Regions from separate parts of the Homo sapiens genome. Here region 1 is linked to region 2. Evidence: fine-mapped expression QTL. A gene starts in region 2. The other region holds a variant in brackets. All regions are shown on one strand. Distances are between the middles of the regions. Region 1 overlaps TDRD7 (tudor domain containing 7). Region 2 holds the start of TDRD7 (tudor domain containing 7).

Evidence for each region. PIP is the estimated chance that this variant, and not a neighbour inherited with it, causes the effect. A credible set is the group of variants that fine-mapping cannot tell apart.
Region 1: its variant is the best candidate, but not a certain one, in a credible set for the expression of TDRD7 in blood mononuclear cells (TOPMed, PIP 0.64).

The regions. Positions count from the first base shown.
Region 1 is chr9:97,470,978-97,479,572 of GRCh38, reverse strand. TDRD7 (tudor domain containing 7) reads right to left here. Exons shown (of 17, transcript NM_014290.3): 10 at 7,078-7,280; 11 at 5,947-6,081; 12 at 4,104-4,190; 13 at 1,000-1,134. Among named protein-coding and RNA genes, the nearest start is that of TMOD1, 26 kb to the left of the region's middle. The variant C/T (reference allele first, on the strand shown) is at 3,715.
Region 2 is chr9:97,408,115-97,416,709 of GRCh38, reverse strand. It overlaps TDRD7 (tudor domain containing 7), which reads right to left and starts at 4,614. Exons shown (of 17, transcript NM_014290.3): 1 at 4,472-4,614. RefSeq lists enhancers at 3,768-4,027, 3,632-4,131, 4,132-4,633 and silencers at 3,969-4,263, 4,348-4,557, 4,578-4,927.

The DNA.
Region 1 (8,595 bases), 63 kb before region 2:
AAGATTATGAAAAAAAAAAGTTTAGTGATTGTTAATGCCGTAGCATACAGGTGGTACTGTTGTGGACTTTCAGACAATCACAGCGGTGGGACAGATTCCCAACTGCCCTCCAGCCCAGGGGATCTTTTCTAGGTAAGCCTGGCCCTGCATGGCTGTTCCAACAAGAGGTATTATTAAGTCAGAGTAGCACTTAAAGGCCCATCAATTTCCAGAATTATGGCTGAACAATGGACAGTAAAAATGATTTTGAAAAAAGCTTCTCTGTAATAGTCACGGCTAGAAAAAGCAATGGTGATGGGAGGGAGAGACATGTCAAAAGCCATGCTAATTATGGACAATGTTTTATTTACTGAGTTTGATGGCAGAAGATGTCTTCTTGAAAATATTAGTAACTGGGCATCTTGAAGTTGTAGAATACCGCATTGTTTTATTTTTTAAAAGATATTAATTTCTGCACAAAATCCTCTATTTCTCCTAAAGGTAGTGAGTAGTTCTAAACAATTCAAAATATTCAAAATCCTTATCATCTGAACATTCATGAATAAAGAAAGGATCAGCCGAAGTTCATCTTTTAATTAAAATGTATGGTGGGGAAGTCACCGAGAAAATGATTATGTCTAAACAGATTTCCAAAGAAAATGGTTACCTAAATAAACTAAAAACTCTAAAAATAAACATTTATACACAATATTCTGGAACTGTACATAAGTCAGTACTGGCATCTAATTATCAAAATGGAACCTGTAACTGGACAACACAGCTTAATGACTGGATGCTCTTGAAAACAAACATTTCTCAAACAACAGTATGTAAATATGACTGGTCTTCTTGTCTAAGTCAGCAATGTTTTACTTCTGAAAACCAGCAGACAACCACATTTGGACAATTTCCAATTTTCTTAAAAATTAATGAGATCAAAACTGAGAAGGCATCTTACAATAAGATTATGAACACATCCAAATCTGTTCCAGCAAATCTCCCAGGCTGGTAACATAGTACCTGAGGTGGTATTGCAATCATTTCTTGTAGAAACCGAGGTGGAATTTCCCTGAGCTCTGACACTTTTACAGATGTCACAGTGCCAGAGTCCAGGAACTGAACATCAAGAGCCCGGCTGCTGTGAACATTTGTGATCTGAAATGAGATAAGTGTTGGCTCATTTATTAGCATATTCAAAAGACCAAAATGCTTCTGTGCAATTACATTTTGTACAATCCTGAATGCATATTAAAAGGAACAGACTATCAGTGTTAAAATTTTCCCCTAATTTAAAATGTATTTATTTACTAAATATTATTATTATTATTATTTTGAGACAGAGTCTTGATCTGTCACCCAGGCTGGAGTGCAGTGGTGCAATCTCAGCTCGCTGCAACCTCCGCCTCCCAGGTTCAAGTGATTCTCCTGCCTCAGCCTCCCAAGTAGCTGGGATTACAGGTGCCCACCACCACAACCAGCTAATTTTTTTGTATTTTTTAGTAGAGATGGGGTTTCACCATGTTGGCCAGGCTGGTCTCAAACTCCTGACCTCAAAAGATCCACCCACCTTGGCCTCCCAAGTGCTACGATTACAGGTGTGAGCCACCGCGCCCAGCCTACTAAACATTGTTTTAGAGTAGAATTGCTTTCAACATCTAGTTAATCAGTAATAATCAGCAAACTGACAATAAACAGTAAAATAAGTATAGTAATATTTATTATTTCTCCAATTCTAGGACGTGATTTATTATAAAATGATTTGATACATTATTATATATTGCTGATTATAAGATACAGTCTGTTCTCCAAAATATTAAAATATAAGGGAAAAACTATTGTTTTGGGGTCAAAACAATAATTACCTTTGCAATTATTTGTATAACTATCAAGAATAAATACATGATTAAACATAGGATCTGCTTTTCACTAATTATTTTTCCTTCTCTGACTTTCCATACATCACTAAGAGAATGAGTACTCAAACCTTTTGTCTACCTTGAAGGTAGACAATATACAATTTGATAATAACAAAAATAATACTAGATATTTATCTAAAATATTTGGACATACACTAAGAAGGCTTCTTTCTGCCAAAAATGCATAACCTAAATTTAAACATGAAGATACTCAAATTGTGAGATACTTTACAACATAATGCTATTCTTCAAAAAGTCAGGAATAGCAAAGAAAGGCTGAGTAACTGCCAGGGTGGAGTATACTAAGAAGACATGACAACTAAAGACAATGTGGGATCCAGATTGTATGCTGGAGCAGAAAAAGTACTTTGTGGGACAATTTGGGAAATGTATGTTCTGTGGATTAACTAATGGTTTTGTATTAATGTCAATTTCCTGGCTTTGATAATTATGCAATGGTTATATAGATGTTAACATTTGAGAAGGTAAAAGGCCAATGAGACCTCTTTGTGCTATTTTTGCAACTTGTAAAAAAGGAAAATTATTTCAAAATAAAAAGTTGAAAAAGTTAGTATGCATACACTTATATATTTTAAATTAAATCACACAGAACTTTAAGATCTGAAGAATGCCATGACCTTTTCAACGAGTCATGTTTTTGAAGTTTATACCTAGGCACATACCCCTTGGTCATATGACCCGAGATTTCAGCCTTCTGACATACAGTCACATTAATAGCAATAATTACTTCAAAACTGCTACTCTCATTCAAGTAGACATGACCAAGTTTTATTTAAATAATGAAAAAAATCAATTCAATTAAGTTATCAAAATGTTGCTGTGCAGCATTTAAAAAATTCAGTAAAGCAACGATTCTTACCTTTTGGGGGTTGATTTGAGAATCTTACAAAATTATGCATACTTTTCCCCCAAAATATATAATACAAGCACACACACAATTTGCATACAATTCCAGGAGGGTTGAGGGACCCCCCTGAAAGTTGAGGTCCTTGCATCTAGGTTAAGAACCTCTGTATCAAAGAAAAAAAAGAAAAAAAAAATCAAGCCAATGTTTTTTTCTTAATTTTTTTTTGTTTAGTTTTTTTTTTTTTTCTTTTTGGTTTTGTAGAGATGGTATGTCACTATTGTGACCAGGCTGGTCTCAAACTCCTGACATCAAGTGATCCTCCCGCCTTGGCCTCCCAAAGTGCTGGGATTATAGGTGTGTGCCACCTCAAACTAGATGAAGAGAGGGAGGGAAAGCAATCACAAAAATCCAAAACTTGCCTTTTTAAAAACATATAGAAACGCAAGATAAACCACAACAAAACTCCCTTCAAGTTCGTAACTGAGCTTGCAAGAAAATAAGACAATTGTTAGTGACTAGAAATAGAAGAGTATGTGAACTTTAAAGCCAAAATTGTCTTGGGCAGGAGACATGGCCTTAGATCCAGGCAGGAGGCAGGGAGGATCTGACACTGCCCCATGAAGCCACAGTTCTTAAAGGGATATACTCTCAATGGAAGGCAACTTTGGAGAGCAATTAAGCAAGATCTAGTAAAATTGAAGATATGCATTCCCAATACCTAGAAACTCCATTCCTATGTATGTACCCTGGAAGACACAGACAGGAAGGTTCAAAAAATTAGGAACAATCTAAATATCCATCATCAGGAAGATGGAGTGATAACGTTGGCATATTAATAGTGTTCAATCATACAGCAGTAAAAATAGATGAACTACAGCTGCACACATCAACATGAATGAATCTCACAAACATAATGAATGAAAAAGCATGACCAATACCTCTTACAACTTA[C/T]ATAAAGTTTGAAAATATTTATTCATTTAGTTACACTTATTCATTTGCCTTTATATTATATACACATATTCATTAATATATTTCCACTATTTAAATATTAAAAATATATAGTAAAAGTGTGTATCTACAAGTACAAATACAGTAAGAATATAAACAAGTAAGAATGAGAAAAACACAAATGAAACTGGGGTGGAGGCAGAAGAAAGGAGATGTAAACTTTCTTCGACCATAACTTCAACCAGGAAATTTCAACCATACTGGTCATGTTTTATTTCATAAACTGATGATGAGTCTGTGAGTATTTATTCAATTTTTTAAAAAAACCTATGTGTATATTTGAAATATTTCACAATAAGTTAAGATTAAAAAGCCAAGTGACTGATTTTTACCTCTACTCGTAACCATTTTCCTTTGCAATGGAAGAGGCAGATTTTCCCACAGAAGGGTAATGAAACAAAGCACTCAGAGGTCATGTGCTGCAAAACAGAAATGCATGATACTCTTATTACTCTTAGCAAAGAGCATATTGCTACACCATTAGAAAAACAGATCGCTGTGGCACTGGCAGACTTAACCGACATGTAGTCAGACTTCCAGCAATGGATGCAGCAAACACACAGGGTTATAAAACTTTTGTCTTGTTACTCATACATTTGTTGACATCAGTAGTTTACTCTCCCTACATGCACATGGCTCATAAATCAGCATTGTTAACATGTCTAAAAACATTAGCATAAGATCATTATGATTCACTTAGGCACTGGCTCCATCAGTTACACATGAAGAGAGGTGTTGAATCTGACAAAAAGAAGAACAGTGAGGAGGTTGCGAGAGCTGTCTGTGGGCCTATTCTTTTCATTTTCATCTCTTCACATTTAGATGCAAAGATAACATTTTAATTCCAAAACAAAGAAATGTTATCAACACAAATATGTATGTCAGTGCCAGTTAAATACCAACAAATCACAGCTGTAAAGATGAAGTCTCCTCATCTTCCTCTTCTGCTGTAGTTTGAAGTTGGGGGTACCTGTCCATGGTCTCTTTCTGTTCAGGGTGTGTGTTTCTACTCTCCCCAAAGGCAATGTCTCACTTAGGTTACGAGTGCAGTAGGAAATATCGAGTCCTTTTCACCACCAAAGGTTATAAGGACAACATCCATACAAATGAGTCACTAGAGTCAGCCAAGCTGGGGGTTTCAGATTTTTCAAAGATAGACTTAAAATTAAACCTCTGTAACACAGAACAAGATAAAGCTATAGGAATGTCTCAATTCCAGACTGTACTTTGAATGCGGGTTTAAGCTGATTCGGCACATATTTTGGCATACCTATTCTACATAAGACACTAGATTAGATACTGTAAGGGATGCAGAAAATTGGTAAGGCACAGTCTATGCCCTCAAGAAGCATACGGTCTAGAAAGGCAAATAAGTACCCAAATAGCTAAAATATAAACCTGAATATGAATGCCCTGAGGTGCCTGATGTGCTTTGTGGGTTAGAGGGAAGAGTTCACTTCCAGGGACGAGGGGGTAAGGGCAGAAGTGGCAGTAGGGTTTAGTGATTTGGAAACCACAGCATATTCTGAAATATGACCATAATGTCCTAATGGAGGTAAGGAAACCATTTTAGGAACTTAAAGCACAATAAAACCTCTACAGAGCTCGATTCAGAAAAAAATAGTAGAATTAAAGGATAAGGAGCTTATTAATACAATTTGAACTGCAGAACCAAATTTATCAGGTGGCAGGTTCTCAGGGTCCATAAAGAGCTCAAGGAGTGATGGGTAAGGAGGAAGATGAAGGCAGAACTAAGGAGGAAAGTTTTATTATCCTCCTAAATTCCAAGGTTTCTCCTTGCCTAAGGCAGAAGAGTCAGCTGGCTCTAGCAGACAGTCACAGGCAGCTGCACTGTGGCATCATCAACTGCATGTTATAAATAACACATCTACCGATTGCTGTGCACTGACTACATGCCAGGCACAGTGTCCTCAGGACAATCCTATAGGGTACACACTATTGCTATCTTCGTTTTACATTGCAGAAACTAGTGTTGTGTTTTTCTTTTAAAGCTCTGAAGTCTGGAGCTCTTTACCTACTATTCTAGAGATTCCATTTCAGACTACTAAAAAATCGTTCATACAAAAAAAATTGTTCATACTTATGCAATTTAGTAAATTACTCTTGCTTGTAATTTTAGGGCTAATTTTAGAGGTAGAAGAGGTTCTGCTATACCTTGCAATGGAAGTAGTCCTCTATCTTACGTAGAAGGTCACTGAGCTTGTTCAGACCCTTACAAGGCACCTGGCAGTAGAGTGTCCCATCAGAGCAAATATTAGTTACTTTGACATTTGTGTACATGGCGTCAACCTATAACAGACAAAGGATACCTCGTGAATGCTTGAGAGCAGAATGCAGCTCTTACCTACCTAAAGGGTATCTACCTAAACATCCCATAACAAGTCTTTGCATTTTAAAATCTTTAAGTTAGAGTATATGTAAGATGAAATGCAATTTATAGCTTAAATGTACAAAACTAATTTGGATTCTTTTCTTTTTAAAAGAAATGTCTAATATCATTTATGCCAAGCACAAAATAGACATTGTGCATACATTCCCATACTCCATTGTCTGAAAGGCCAAGACTATCTTTAATGTTGGTTTATTTTCTCCCCATTTATTTAGAAAAAGAATTACATAAACCATGTTTTGTAACATTAACAGAAGTGAAAATAAACTCTCACAAAATCAAATCCATCATCAGTCTACTTTCTAACCTGTGTCCAGAGGTCATATGAATTTGAGTAATTTTAAAAAACCATAATCAAAGTAAATATTCAATTTTACCCATTTTTAGTCAAACCATAATAAAGACATTCACAGTGGTTCTACTTATTAAAACAGAAGTTTTCCCATTGTTTCTATGAAATCTTTAAAATGACCATTTTTAACATCTCATCCTATTCTCTTGGGTAGATATTCTATAATTTATTTAAAGGCTTCCTTCTTTTGGGGCATTTATGTTCTTCACATTAAAAAAAAGTTAAAGCTAATAATCAACATCTTCATGGACCCAATTTTCCCTTCTTTTGTGTTATTTTTCCTTATTATCTTTACAAAATAATCTCATATAAAATCAATAGATGCTCATTGCAGGAAATGGAAAATAAAAAATCCAGTTCCTAAGAAACAATTACTCTGAACATTTTGGTACTTTTTTCCCTTCTAGCCCCACTCCCTCCTTTTTTCCCCTCAATGTAAATGTAATCTGTCTCTATCAATTGTTAGCCTAAAATGTATAATATTCTGGTGATTTTTCTCTCATACAAAATGTGTAACAAGCAACAACAGTGATCACAGTGGTACCTGCAGGTGAACCTCTAGTGACTTGTCACATATAGCCTTCAAGCAGGTGGCATTGATATTGATATCATCTTCTCCTGAGGTATCGTACAGAACAACAAGTGGAATGTCAGCTTTGTCAAGTATTTCCACTGCAAAGATCTTTCCACAAGTTAAAGATTCAACCACCTTCACTAGATCAGGGTCATCGCTTAGGACTTCCAAGCCTGAAAAATATTGAATCTTTTAATTTCTACTTAATTAGAAAAATCATTTCAAGATGAATAGATGGATTGTGTCTGTTTTGACCATTATTAAAATTATAAGCCTACTGCAAAATTATTAAATTTTATATGAAAGCTTTGTTTTACAATCTTTATCTTACCTCTTAGGTTTTAAAAAAATATAATGTAAACGCCCTTTTGAATGATACACTAAGGCAGGCAATCTTAAAACAAGCAGAGAAACGGATAATCAATCAGAATTTCTACCTTGGGAGAAACAGTCTTCACTTTATACATGAACACATATTTAAAACCAAAAAACTAACACATATGAGAAGCCATCAATTATGTCTTCCAGTCATATGTTTGTAATGCACTTCCTACATATATACAATTATTTTTCTTATAAAATGAACACACATTTATTGGAAATTGAGACAACCACTATTGTTTCTTTTTTATTGACCCTTAGGATACCAAAGAACCTTCTGATTTATCAAAGACAGATTAAGTAGTGTTTAACACAGGTATTAGATGAATTTTGTTGTAGTCCAACTACTCTTTAAATTCTTAGAAAATTATAGTTCCACATAACATATATGACAATTCTAAGTTAATGTATTAAATGAATTAAAACTAGCTCATATTCCCCCAATGGTACTATAATGCCTATTTCCATATTTTTCTACTTTAAATCCACAAGCTAAAATTCAGACTCCTCCGAGTTTTTTCTTCTTCTTGTTCTGTTCTCCAGACATATAACTTTGAACTTTTCTCAAACATTTAATTTCAACACCCTAAATCCTGTCCTATGCCCTTGATACGTTCTTTCCAACACCAACTTCTAAAAGTTGTTAACAAGTTTTTAAAATTTCTTCAGGTTAATCTCACAGATAAGAGTCAAACCCAGCTCCTGTGACATAAGAATTCATCCCACTGGGAAGGAGGCATTTCTTCAGAGTACTAATTTTCATGAAATAATTATGATCATTTTCTGCATTTGGCTCAAGTCCCCCCCGGCATGGTGCATATTTCAATGCCTTTCCTTATCACGGACATGACCAATGTGTCATCTGTCCTTTAAGTTTATCCCTACATGGCACTCTCATACAGGTGGATTCCTCTGTTTCCTTTAGGAGGAAGGAAAAGAACAATGATACATCTACTATGCCAAAAACTGCATGTGACCTGTGATCAAACCCATGCTTGGGCACATGAAGGTGTGTCAGTCACACCCTCACAGCATCACCACAGTACATCTCAGTGGGAAAGGGGCTGAGAGTCACCTCACAACATGCTGAACAACATATTGAAACTC
Region 2 (8,595 bases):
AAGTTACTAAAAAATTATCTGCAAATGTTAACAATTCTTATAAACTGAATGAGACAGCCAATCGCAACACCAAACTGTGGTTGAGAATCATCAAGTAGATTATTTCTGAGCATGTCCACTCTGAGCCAGATTAGGCCCTGTCAGGGCCGCAGCATGATTGCAAGGAGCCCACACATCCTGACAAGCAGCAGGCACGGCTTGAATATTAGTAAATGTCTCACATGTACTTATAGTCCTGTTTTTCAGAGTGTGCAGATATTATTGGGATCCATAAACACAAACTGATATTAAATTCACAACAGCTTTTGGTAGTTATATGTTTAATTGACCAATGGATACTGCAAGCACAACTACTAGTGTATGAGGTTTCACGAAATTTTTCTAAAGCTACAAAAAATGGCCTCATACTTGAGGAGACTGAGAATCAACGCTTGACCACATGGTTGCAATCTGTAAATTAAGTTCCCTCCCCCTGCCTGCCTTTTTAAAGTATGCTATCTTTCATGGAGGACTATAACTCTCTATTTGCAAACAACTTTTTGAAGGGAAGGGGAATCCCTTGGAGTATAAGACTGTGGGTCTCCAAGCTGGTGAGAAGCAGTTAAATGCAGTAAAACCTGGAAGGCTAAATGTGATTGTATTCAAATGCACGACTTGCCAGTCTGATTTCAATTCCCACATTAGCAACATCACTTCAGGCAGTGAACGAAAAAGAAAGTGTAAGCTTTAAAAAAAATCGTCATTATTTTCTAAACTATATCACTTTGGAAATGCTCTGAGTTTTGTTACGTGGCTCATGATGACTTTTTTTTGAAACTTTCGGAAGATGGCAATTATACTCTCAAGGTATATAAGAATACTTTGTTCTAACTATAAAAATAAAGTTTAATATCTTAGACATCATCCATTAGAAGCATAAAAGAAAGTATATCATAGGAATTTCAACTGGAGTGCAGTGGCGCAATCTTGGCTCACTGCAACCTCCGCCTGCCGGGTTCAAGTGATTCTCCCGCCTCAGCCTCCTGAGTAGCTGAGACTATCTTTTTTATGCTTTCGTGCTTTCCTTTTTTTCTTCGCTTATACCCAGTTAATCTTAATTATCCAAGACACTAATAATGCACATGAGGTGGGGTGGGGAGTTGGGGAGTGATGACAATCTTTAGGGAAACAAAATTTAAATAATTTAAGTGGCCTAAAATAATTCTCACTCTACTTCAAAACTGCATTTTGTAAATTCACAGCTTTTCTCTTTACTATACCTGAAAATGGCCCAAGGAAGTCCTATTCTGAAGAACCTGGTTTTGGTGTATCCCAGATAAACGCCTTCTACCATTGATTGATCCTCCCTGGCTCAGTCATTTGCATGTTATCTGCTTCCTCTAACTACTGGTGTCAAAGGCCTTTAGCTGAGCTAGTCTGGCTTCCATCCTATGCCTTCTCTTTTCTAAGTTTCTTCTTGCTCAACTATTTCCAACTGTATGATTTGGCTCATCTTCCTTACTACATTTTTCATGTCATCAGTTTAAGTTGTCGAGTGGCACTAAATCTTAAAACAAATCAGAAGAATTATTAGGGTAAACTGAAAACACCAAGTAATCTCTCTTAGCTTCTTTTAGTTAGATGTTCAATTTTGAAGTATCTGGATATCTCTTTAGGGCATATACTTCTAATAACTAACTGCCCTTCTCCTTGAAGACACTATTTTAGCAACAGCGGGAACTTAAAGTCCCATAATGTCTGTGCTGACACATTTTAGGCATCGTCTAGGCTAACCCAAGCTCCTTATCTTACAAATCAATAAACTGAGCCTCAGAGGGAAAATTTTTTCCTAAGATCTTTACCCAATAAATGATTTCTCACCTTGCGACACTTTTAAATGCTCTTTTCTTTCTAATCATAGTCTGTTACCACTTCAATTACTCCTTCACCAACCGGTTTTTAAAGGAAAAAGATGATTAATACCCTCAGATGATGGTATACTTCCTTAAGAGTTTTTTTCAGGGAGTTATCTTTTTTATTCTTGTGATCTCAAGTTCCAAATTATTCGTGCATTTTAACTGCATACCACGAATGTACGTAAGTAAGGGATTTCCATAAGTCTACATACTAGACGAAAAAACCCTGAGATAATAAAGTGGCTTAGTAAGGAGTTTGTGTCTTAATCCTAGTTCCGCTACTGATTACCTGTGACAAGTCACTTCAGGTCTCTTTTTTTCACAAGGAAGATAAGAAAGGTGGGCAAGAGCCATGATTCTCAACTTTCCTTGGATTCACTGAAGGCTGAAATAAGGTCCAAATATGTAATGAAAACCGAGTTTGCTTACTCATGACAAAGCTGCACAGGCTAAAATGCCAAGCTTACTTTGAAGTCACACTGGGTAGCTTGCACTGATCAAGTTCTGATTGGCATATATACATGTCTTCAACTAAAAATTGCAAAATTAATTACTTTTAGTTTGAAAGACAAAACTGTAAACATATTTGGCTTACAGGGAAATAATGACAAGAATGAAGCTTTCAAAAGTACAGAGGTGGGAGTGGAGGGAGGAAAAAGCAGGTTTGGCACAAAGAAACAACAGTTCACGTAAATATAAAATTTCACCAAGGAACTTCTGTGAAAGTGTCCAGATGCAAAGCACTCTATGTCAAATCTCAATTCTTGAAAACAGCACTTGACAAACACAAATTAGGCACTCGGGGTTGGATTATATTTTTTCTTTATATTCACATTAAGTATCCAGCTAGATTATATTGCACAGAGAACTTAAAAGAGGGGTTCTGCAAGGAGTTTAAAATCTCTTGATGCACAATACAATAGTTCATTCAGCCATGTTCAACCTGTACACTTAAAAGGGCATTAGCAGGGGATTACACTTCATTTTCAATCTACAGAGACTGAAATCTGAAGGCACTGCCAACTGCTGCCTCACAGTCTCACCGTGCAACTACCAAAGACGGAGGCTGTGTGCCACCAAAGGGCCCTGGATTGGGGCACAGGAGATGTGAGTGCTAATCCAGCTGGCCCCAGGGGCAATTCCCTATACCCAGAACAGTACTTTGCACGTAACTGATGCTCAATGAATGTCAGCTGAGAGGAAATGCAAAAATATCCACCATGTGCCCATTTATATTATATAGTAAACACAAAGATCTTTGTGTCCCTGCCCTCAAAAAACTAAAATCCAATTATGTAAAACATGGACCGTTTGTTGGGAGGAAGAGAGTGAATACTGCTTGGCAATTATTATGAGGCAAAGGATATACAGTGGTTATCTTGGAAAAGCCTTGCAAAGTAAGCCAGGTACCTCTATTTGACACATAGAAAACCAGGCTAAGAGAAAGCATGTAATTTGTTCAAGATCACACAATTTGTAAAATGAGAAGCCCAGATTTCAATCCAGGTCTGCAAAGTTCACATTATTTGCAGTATGCAACACATTCATACACATCAAGGCAGCCCAGGACGAGACAGGGATTTGGGTCCAAGTTTTACTTCTGCTATTAAGCTGTTGCCTATCTCTCTAGAGAGAACATTTCTCTGCATTTTTTTCACCGGCACGATTGGAGAGCAGAGAGGTGTTGGTAGGAGGGTTAATGAACTAGATCTGTGGTTTTTTGGTTTGGTTTGGTTTGGATGGGCGGTGATCAGAATTCTTCTGGGCCAGGACTTGTTCTAATGTGGTTGTTTCCCTTCCCTGCTCTTAGAAATTATTTGAGAATGGTACCTTTAGCTATTAATGGAAATATACCTCTCAAGTGAATGGGAGCAGAAAGATATGCCGGCTCCAAGCTCCCTCCTAGCAAGCTGAAGCTGAGAGTCTGACCCTGCTGAGGGGATGCTACTGAAAGTTGAGAGACAACTTACTCACGGATCCATGTTTCCCTCCCAGCTGGGTGCTCTGTACCCACTGGGTGCTCCTCGTTTGAGAGAAATGGGGATGTGTGTCCTGCATTACTTAAGCGGCCTGCCTGGGGCTCGTCTCCAGATTATAGAGACCTTCAAGAGAAGTTCGTGGTGTAAAATACTTGGGTTCAAATAGGGGAGCGCGGACATCCCTCGCTGGGGGCGGCGGCTGCGGCCTGTCGCGCCGGTAGCGGGAACCACTTCCTGGTCCGCATCTCCCGCCCGCGTCCACACCCCGCTGCTGCATTTCCCCCACGGCGCAGAGCTTCCGAGGCGGCAGGAGGCTCCGTCCGACTCCCGCGTGAACGCCCGGCCCGGAGCAGGGTCCCTTCAGAGATTTAAAACACAACGCTCTGGAACTCCAACTCCCCCGGCGCCCAGCCCGGTTCCCAGGCGTCGGGGCGGGGGCAATCCCCTGCGGCTGCAGGGAAAAGGCCCCGAGCCTGTTGGAGCCCCCGGCCCTGGCCGCGGTCCCACCGGTGACCCAGGTGCGCCGCGCCCGCCCGAAATCTCGTCCGACGTCGCCCGGCACCTGTCGCGCCCGGAGCCCGCAGGACCTGCACTCACCTCGTTCCGGGGGCCCACGGCCCGTCCCCGCGTCTCTGGGCCCAGCTCCTGCCGCCGTCTCCGCCAGGGGCCCCGCCGCGGCCGCCGCCCACTTTCGGTTTCCCCGCACCACCGGAGCCGCCCCGCGGCTTGGGAATCACCTCAAGCCCCCGCCCCGCCCTGCTCGGCCCCGCCCCGCTTCGCCCCGCCCCGCTTCGAGGGCAGCCTGGCCTCGGCTCTGCGCACGCGCGGGCGCTCCGGCCGCGTCGGCCCACGCCGGCGTCCGCGCGTGGGAAGGGAAACCGTCGCCACCTAGCGGTTTCTGCGCGTGCCCACGCACCGGCCGGCGGCGGAAGACGCCTGCGGGGCGGGTGCGGGAGCGCCTCCTGGTGGACAACGCAGGTACGCGCGGGCCGAGCGAGCCGGGACTCAGCAGGGGGCGAGGGTGGCTCCTTCTATGGGGCTCACCCTCCTTCCAAACAGTTCAACTCCTGCACATTATTTTCTTCAACATCTGGAGCAGTTACTTTTTATTGCCCTAGACACACACTCTGTCCGCCCATATCCTTCAGGCCTTTCTCAAGCATTACCCTTTCAATGACGGTGGACACAGTCTCTAACATGTCAACCTCCTTCCTTGACTTTCCCTATCCCCATTCTCAACCTTATTTCTCCTTAGCACCTATCTAGCACACTATATGTATTTTACTTATGCTTTTATTGTCTGCTATCCTTCTAAAATTAAAGCTCTGTGAGCACAAGGATTTTTGTTTGGTTCCTTAACCTATTCCCAGAGCCTAGGATAGTGCCTAGCACACGATCAGCAATAAATATCTGTCAAATTTATTCATTCACTCTAAAGTTATTGAACACCTAATAAGTGAATACTTATTTATTCTGCACATTAATTCCACCAACACTTATTGGCACCTGCTTTGCATCCCTGCAGCCAACATTGAACACTTCTCTGCACCATTGGATATGCATTTACTGAGAACCTGCTGCTTATTCAACCGGTATTTTATTACAGCTTGACTGCCATGTATAAGACATACAATAAACTGAACGTTTAAAATGTACAGCTTGATAAATTATGCATTTACTGAGAACCTGCTGCTTATTCAACCGGTATTTTATTACAGCTTGACTGCCATGTATAAGACATACAATAAACTGAACGTTTAAAATGTACAGCTTGATAAATTATGCATTTACTGAGAACCTGCTGCTTATTCAACCGGTATTTTATTACAGCTTGACTGCCATGTATAAGACATACAATAAACTGAATGTTTAAAATGTACAGTTTGATAAGTTTTGATATATATATATCACTGTGAGACCATCACTGCAATCAAAATCATGAACATATCCATCACCCAAAAAAGTTTTACTGTGATCCTTTGTAATTCTTATATCTTGTCCCTCCCTGTCACTTGCCCCCTCAACTGCTCACCTGCTTTCTGTTGCTATAGATTATTTTGCTTTTTCTAGAGTTATATGTAAAACTTTTATGTATGGAATCGTATGTACTATCCTTTGGGGGGCTGCCTGGCTTCTTTTATTTAGCAAATTATGTTCATCCATGTTGTTACATGTATCAATAGTTCATGTCTTTCTATTGCTGAATGGTATTGTAGGGATGTACCAAACCTACCACGCAACCCAGCAATTCTGCTCCTGGGTATTTACCCAGGAGAAATGAAAGCAGATGTCCACACAAAAACCTGTACAAGAGTGCTCATGGCAGTTGTGTTGGCCGTAGCCCCACATGGAAAGAATACAAACATCCGTCAGAAGGTGAATGGACAATCAACTAATATATATTGAACACCTGCTGTTAAATAACAAATTTTCATGGATAAGCCTGTGCTTATAGAGCTTTTGATTCAGTGAAAAGATGCAGTAGGCAATACAAAGAAAAATTGGAAGTAAATCTGGAAAACCTGATATCCAGCTCTCAGACACTTGGATGTTTCCCCAAAGGCGGTAGGGAATTGTTCAGAGTTTTTGAACAGGGCTTTTCTTTGAACACTGTTCTCTTTCATATCCTAGATCTGGTCCCTGACTAAGTTTGCCTAAATGTCTCTCTCTGGAATTTCTCTGCATCTCCTTTGCTCTATTTCAGTCTATTTCAGATGTCTTTCTGTTCTTTCCCTTCCAGTCTACTCCAAACATTGCAGTGGATTTTTAATAGACTTTGCTATGGTCTGAATGTTTGTGTCCCTACAAAATTCATGTTGAAACCTAATCCCCATTCTTGCGGTGTTGAGAGGTGGGACCTTTGAGAAGTCATGATGGCTTCGTCCTTGTGAATAGAATTAGTGCCCTTAGGGGCTTAAGGGAGCCTTCTGCCCCTTCCACTGTGTAAGGATTCAGCAAGAAGGTGCCATCTTTGAAGAGGAGAGCAAGTCCTCACAGGATGCCAAATCTGCTGGCACCTTGATCTTAGACTTCCAAACCTCCAGAACTGTAAGAAAAAAATTTCTATTATTTATAAATTATCCAGTCTAAGATATTTTGTTATAGCAGCAGGAATGGACCAAGACAGACCTAAAAGACAACCAGCCCCAATTTGGTCTCTGCAGTACTCACAACATCCTGTGGCTCCACATTTTAGAAGGGAAAGATGTAAAAAGCAGCTGCCAAAGGAAAGAGTGCTAGTAGTAGCAGGAAATAAAAAAAAATTTCAGAGTCTAATATGTAGAATAAATCATAAAATAATGTGAGTTGAACCCAAGTTTGAGATCCTTTATCCTTGCAAAGATGTTCCATGTTTAGACTGCCCTATATGTAAAGAAAAATGAAGCTCTGCAGCTAGTTTTTTTTAAACCAGCTTTTTTGATAGTTGACATATAATACATATTTAAATGTACAGTGTGATGAGTTTTGACCAACGTCTTTAATTGTGTACCTACCACCACAATCAACATATGGGATTAGTTCATAATTCCAAAACTTCTCCTGTGCCCCTTTACAGTTAATTCTCTCCCCATACCTTTATCCACTAGCAGCTACTGATCTGATTTTTGTCATCATAGGTTTGCCTTTTCTAGCATATCATATAAGTGGAATCATGCAGGATGTCATCTTTTGTGTCTGGCTTCATCACTTAGCATGATGGTTTTGAAAGTCATCCATGTTGTTGCACATAGTGGTAGTCGGTTCCTTTTTAGTGCTGAATAGTAAGCCATTGCATGGCTTTATCACAATTTGTTTATTCATTCACATTTCATGCACATTTGTGTTGTTTCCAGTTTGGGCTGTTATAAATAAAGCTGTAATAACAGCCATATGCAGGTCTTTGTGTGGTGATGTGGTTTTTTGGCATAAAGACTTAAGTATAGAACATCTGGTTGTGGGATAGGTGTACGCTTAACGTTTTAAGAAACCGTCAAACTGTTTTCTAATGTGGCTGTGCCATTTTGTACTCCCACTTTTACTCTCTCCTTGGTAATGTGTAAGACTTCCAGTTGCTCTAAATCTTCTCCAATACTTGGTATTGCCTGTCTTTCTAATTTTAGCCATTCCAGTGGATGTATAGGGATAGCACACCGAGGTGTCAATTTGCATTTCCCCAGGACTAATGATGTTGAGCATCTCTTCATGTGTTTATTGGCCCTTCATATGTGTTCTTGGGTAAAGTGTCTGTTCTGCAGGTAGATTTTTGTCCAAGACATCAGGAGGTTCTCAGAATTGCCTGGGTATCTGACAGAGCAAGGGCAGATTAGAACGTTGTTTTTTTTGTTTGTTTGTCTTTGTGAAGTGGTCCAAGACCCAGGGAGTTCAAGAATTCACCCCCATACCCTGGATATAATTGGATTTCAGGAGAATTAAGAGATATCAGAGATGGAACAGACTGGTTACTCCGTAGGCACAATGGTTCTTACCCTTTTGTGGCGAAGTCAGAATAGATGAAAGCAAATTTTGATGTATGATTTCAGAGAGGATATAGAGTCCTTAAAGCTCCACTGTGAACCCACGTTAAAAATTTCCTTAGAGGAAAGCATATATCCTGGGGCCAAATAGCAGAGTTTTTGAAATGAACAGGACTCAGATGGAAGGCATTCTTCCTCTGCAAATGCCCAAGCATATCTTTGGACAACAAGGGCAGTGGCCAGGAGCATCTAGATCTCTTTTAAGAG